2 separate regions of the Homo sapiens genome follow, and region 1 is linked to region 2. The links come from fine-mapping of genetic effects on plasma protein levels. A gene starts in region 2. The other region holds a variant in brackets. All regions are shown on one strand. Distances are between the middles of the regions.

Region 1 (2,929 bases), 16 kb after region 2:
GTAGTTGCTTTTCTTATTTATTCTTTTAATGTCTTTTTTTATTTGTTAGTAGGTTAATGGCAACTTCATAGAATAATTTAGTAAGTGTTCTCTTTTCGTTAATATTATATGTGAATGTGTATAGAATCAGTATTTTTTTATTTAAATTTTTGGTAGAATTAACCAGTGATGGCACCAGAGCCAATGAGTTTCTTATCAGAGATTTTTATCTAGAAATTCAATTAATTTAAGAGATGTAGGACTATATAAATTAATTCCTTCTTGAGTGAATTTTGGTAGTTTATGTCTTTAAATGAATTCTTCCACTTCAACTAAATTAACAAAATAGTTGATATAATTTTTTTCATAATGTTTCCTTATTATTATTTTAATTTATATAAGAACTCTAGAGTTGTTACCTCTGTCATTCTTATTGGTGATTTGTGTCTTCTGTCTTTTTTTTTCTGATTGGTCACTTCACGTTTATCAGTTTTATCAATCTCAAAGAACTACCTTTTGGTTTCATTGATCTGTTTCTACTGCTTTTCTGTTTTCTATTTAATTGTTTTCCCCCTTTGTGATTTATGATTTCTTTTTTATGCTTATCTTGTTAAGATTTCCTCATTTTTTCCAGTTTCTCACAATGTAACTTGAGATTATCGATTTCAGATCTTCCTTCTTTCAATAAAAGAAAATGTTCAGGGTTAGTCTTTGGTAGGGACATGGAGACCTCTTCCACAGTAACAGAGAAGAGTACAGTATGGATGCTGATGTGCTGGTGGGAACCTGTTGTAGATCTTTTGGAATTGCTTCTATATTCTCAGTCACAAAGGAAGCTTTCTTATCTGAGAATGAGGATGCTAAAGGAAATAAATTTAATGTTCTTTGGTTTGTATTCAGCTTTACTTCCTATTAATATTGACAACTTTCACTTTTTTCATTTAATTGTTATATTTTTCACATATTTTGTATGTTTTTTTAATTTTTAAATTGGTTTTTGTAATGTGGTTTTTAATACCTTTTCATCTTCTTGTACAAGGAGACATTATAGTACGAAGTTTATTGTAATGATTGCTGTTTGAATTATGCCATTTTACTATTAAAGTTTTTAAAAAGCAGATTCAGTGCTCTACTTGTCACAGGCTAAAGATTTGAGCTTTAATATCTCAGACAAGAGTTGTAACTCAAACCTCAGATCATATTGCAGAACACAAGAATACTTGAGGAAAAGTAAGCAAAGTAGAAAAACTGATTTTTAAAATCTTTTTCTCTATAAAATAAGCTATTCCTCAACTTCTTTACATGAGTATGCCACTTTAAAAAGTGCATTTACTGTGCTATCTCATTTTGAATATCACAATTCTGTGAGGTGCTTATTAGGTACAAGCTTATTTTACCCACGAGTAAACCAATGCTTAGCAAGATTAAATGAATTCTCCCAAGTTGTACAGAAAGTGAGCTGAAGAACTGGATCAGAATGCTGATTCCTCTTATTGTGCAATATCTGGCTCATGATATTAGATATAGATAATATACCTATAGCTAATATAGATATTAGACAGTACTATTTCCTAGAATCAGTCCAAAAGCACCCAACTGACACAATATCAGCTCGCCTAGAATTTACATTCTTATGTTGAAGACAAAAGAAGTAGTCACTTAACCATATAATTATAAATGTCTTAGGTAGGAGAAGTAGAGAGTCC[T/C]GGGAAAGAGTGTAATGACTTCTCCCCTTAGTCAAGGGCCATTCTGTAAGAGTCAGTTTCACAGAAAGAAAGCCACAAACTTCTGCTTGACTGCTTAGGATGCAACTTTGCAATATGGGCATTTCCTCTCCTAACACTTAGTCATAATGCTAACAAGTCATAGTTTCCCTTGGAACACTGACGAAGGAGGAGATTGAGTAATCATAGAAGCTAAGTTATTATTATGCAAAAAAGTATACCTTTGACATATTTATATTTTCTTAATAGTCTTATGTGTCCCTTTTTCTCATTGCCAGAAAATGTTCAGCCAACTGAAGAAACTGAGCAAGGCCCCCACCACCACCACTACAACACACATATTCTTTTATTATTACTTGTAGTCATACAGGAATTTGCTCAAAAAGAAAAGTTAAGAAGGGTCATTTCATTATTCTAAGGTATATACATTTTTCGTTTTATGGTCCCAGTTTTTCCTAAAATTCATTATATCCAAAACTAAATTTCTTATGATCTCTACTGAATCTGCATCTCTTCCATGTCTCTTTACTTAATGAATGTGACATTGGAAGGGATATACTTCACCTCAGAGTTATATTAGGTTTATATGTCTATATTATCCAGTCATTAAAATGGCATAATCTTCTTTAGTACAGGTTGAGCGTGCATAATATGAAAAATCTGAAATGCAAAATGATCTAAAATCTGGAGCTTTTTGAGCCCCAACATGGAGCTCAAAAGAAAATGCTCATTGGAGCATTTCAGATCACAGATTTTTGGATTAAGGATGCTCAACCACTGGGTTTTCTGAAAATATTCCCAAATCCAAAAAACTAAACCCAAATTCCCAAACACTTCTCATCCCAAATATTTCATATAAGGTACACTGAACCAGAAATATTTTTAAGTAAGAAGAAATCATAAATCATTGTTTGCCGAAGCCTGATTTCAAAGGTCTTACACAAATAGTATGGATGTCTATTAGATCACAAAATGTGGAAAATCTTGAATATACCCATTTTTGTTTGATTTTTGTGTATGGTCTAAGATAAGGGTTCAACCTTATTCTTTTCATGAGGAAATCCGGTTTTTCCAGCCCTATCTACTAAAGAGATTATCCTTTCCCTCTCCTGACCTTTTGATTCTCAGCTTCCTATTTGGCTCCATTGAAATGTTTCTGTTTTTAAGCCTGTTCTACACACTCTTTTGATCACTATAGCCTTTTAACATAACTTTAAATAAGAAAG
Region 2 (2,929 bases):
TGTTAAACATGCACTATACCCCATCCACTATGTTAAGCATTGTACATGCCTTTTTCTCATTTAATTCTCCACACAGAGATAGTCCTTTATATGTTTATTTTATATATAAGTGAAATAAACATCAGAGAGTTCACAAAGCTATAAAATGAAAGTGCCAGGGCTAAAATTCACTTTACTCTGTTTCAGCATTAAGGCCCTTAGGCATTATGGCCTCCCAAATACTATCTAGTATGTCTGTGAAGCATCCATGCTTTGGTAAACTGTATTAGTCAACCAGATCCTGTTAAAGATCAATTCACCTTTGTAAAGAGAAGAAAAGGAAATAACAATTGATTTCTGAGACTATCTTTGCAGCTAAACTTTACATAGTCAGATATATATTTTTCTGCCATCTCAGCAACTGATTGAACTACCCATTAAGGTTATTTGGCTTTAGTAGTCAAGCTTACTCCATAATATCACAGGAATCCTTTACCCATTTTTTTTGTATTTCTAAGTGTATTTGTTTTTGTAATTATGACCAGCTACAGTGAACACTGGCTTCTCTATCAGCTAAATCTCATTGATTTTTTTTTTACTTGTACATCCATTTAAAATCTTGCATAGTAGTAAAATTCATCTGCTACTGTCACACAAAATGATACATAAGATATGGAAGGTCCCAGGGCTTAGTTTTATTTCTATTATTTTACAAATGACAAAATATCTCAGAAAATTATGTTATTTCTTTAAGTGACACAGGCCATTAATAGAAGAGATGAAACTAGGTCTTAGGTCTAAAAACTAGCATTTGCTTTGTGCCCTACAACGTGAAAGAGTAGAATAATAAGGAAGAAAATAGCTTATGATGGACCTGCTCATTCCGATGGTTCTGTCTTAAAAAACATAACCTTGAAGTATGATTGTGCTTTGAACCTCACTAAAGTGTCCAAAGATATTCTCCTTCTCTAAGATTATTTAGCTCACCAGAAACATATGTTTCTGCATTCTAAGTTTCAATTACATATTTTCAAAGATTTTTCTCATTGAGTTTCCAATTTCCCCATTGTCTTAATTTAATTATTTGAATGTCTTTGTAATAATAACTAAGGGGAGGAAAATATTTCTTTGTTCTGGAAAGCAAAACCAATATTTAATGCAATTATCCATCCTCCAATCTAGTTTTATGGAACAAACATTAAATGTGATGGCAAGAGAATCTGATTCAAATTCCAGATTCTAACTACTAGTTGCAAGTCTTTTGCTGATTTTCTCAATTTCTCTGTTCCACAGTTTCTTATATGAAGAACAGAGATAGAAATACCTTATTATGAGTCTCAGAGACAATACATAAAATCCCTTCGTACATGCCTAGAATATAGTATATGCTCAACAAATCACAGTAATTTTAATAATTATTACCATAACCATTGTCGTCATCACAATCATTATCATCATTATGATAATCTCTCAGAATTGGTCTTTTACATCAAAATCATTAGGATTTAAAATATGATAAACAACTACTCATCATATCCAGTTCAGTATAAATATGGGATCTTAATTTTAAGAAAAAACTTACCTGTTAAAAAGCAGAAAAGAGCCAGAGAGAGGAGCAGAAACATGCCTGACAGTTTCATTGTGTCAGTTAGCTCACTCAGATCAAGGCTGCTTTGTCCAGCTGAGGTTCTCTGTCAAGACAATTCCCAGAAAGCCCTAAAATACATTCAGACCACATGAGTCCTATGCAGTTTATGCATTTAATGGGGCCTGCCAACACATTAAAAAAATGCTTCATGCTCCCCATCAATCTTAAAAATTGGGACAATTATGTGTGTCGCACCTCAGATCTTATTAATAGAGAATGTCATTTTCTACTGGTAGCCTACATTTTCCTAACAACCAATACATCCTCCCGGCTCTTCTTTCTAAAGTTTCACTACATTATAGGGATGATTCACTGGTTGACTTCCACTTGATTCTTATATTTCTTTCAGACAGGTCCTACATGTCTGTGGTCCAAGTGAGTAACCACAGGATAATGGAATCTTGGGTGTAACTTGGATTTTTAGAGTCCAGATCATCCAAGGTGTACCTAAAGGAGACAGATATTCCACACTGTAGCTAGAACTGCATTAGAAGAAGCATTTTCTGAGCAGGAATCAGCTTATTAATTTTTAAATCATTATAGCAGTCAAATGCCAGTGGTTGTCCAGTTTTGAGTCAAAATAAATAGGGAAGTCAATTATTTTCTTTAATTTGTAACAAAAATTTGTTTTTTAAAGTTACTGAATTTAATTTTCTTTTTTTTTTTTCTTTCTTTTTTTTTTTTTTTTTTGAGATGGAGTCTTTCTCTGTTGCCCAGGCTGGAGTGCAGTGGTGCAATCTTAGCTTACTGCAGTCTCTGCCTCCCGGGTTCAAGCGATTCTCCTGCCTCAGCCTCCCGAGTAGCTGGGACTACAGGTGCCTGCCACCATGCCTGGCTAATTTTTGTATTCTTAGTAGAGACGGGGTTTCACCATGTTGGCCAGGCTGGTCTCAAACTCCTGACCTCATGATCCGCCTGCCTCGGCCTTCCAAAGTGCTGGGATTATAGGCGTGAACCACTGTGCCTGGCCTGAATTGAATTTTTGAAATGAGCAATATATTTCCTTTTACTTTTCATATAAAAGTTAGATGAATCACATTATCTTTCATGGCCAATTTAATTGCAAGATAGATCAAAGAGTGCGATGCCACAACCTTCTTTCAGGAAACAGCAACAAAAAAGAATGGTTGTAGTGATAACAAGAACGTCTACCTCAAATCATAAACTGCTATTGAAAATATCATGAGGGAAATCATCTTAAAGTCCTTTACAGAAAGATGTAGGTCAGATGTTAAAAGTATTCAAAGACACTACTGAAAAACCTTAAAAACTATATTTAAAATTTTCTTGAATCCTTTATGG

Direction of the effects. Alleles are on the strand shown, and positions count from the first base shown. The strength of an association depends on the size of the effect and on how common the allele is.
As copies of T replace C in region 1, the plasma level of the protein whose gene starts at base 1,674 in region 2 goes up (strong association).

What was found. A credible set is the group of variants that fine-mapping cannot tell apart. PIP is the posterior inclusion probability: the model's chance that the variant is causal. The UK Biobank Pharma Proteomics Project read protein levels with antibody pairs (Olink). The fine-mapping took linkage between variants from a reference panel, not from the people measured, so its PIPs are less certain.
Region 1: its variant is the best candidate, but not a certain one, in a credible set for the plasma level of the SPINK6 protein (UK Biobank, PIP 0.89).

The regions. Positions count from the first base shown.
Region 1 is chr5:148,185,318-148,188,246 of GRCh38, reverse strand. No RefSeq gene overlaps it. Among named protein-coding and RNA genes, the nearest start is that of SPINK6, 16 kb to the left of the region's middle. The variant T/C (reference allele first, on the strand shown) is at 1,686.
Region 2 is chr5:148,201,787-148,204,715 of GRCh38, reverse strand. It overlaps SPINK6 (serine peptidase inhibitor Kazal type 6), which reads right to left and starts at 1,674. Exons shown (of 4, transcript NM_205841.4): 1 at 1,562-1,674. The coding sequence starts at 1,619.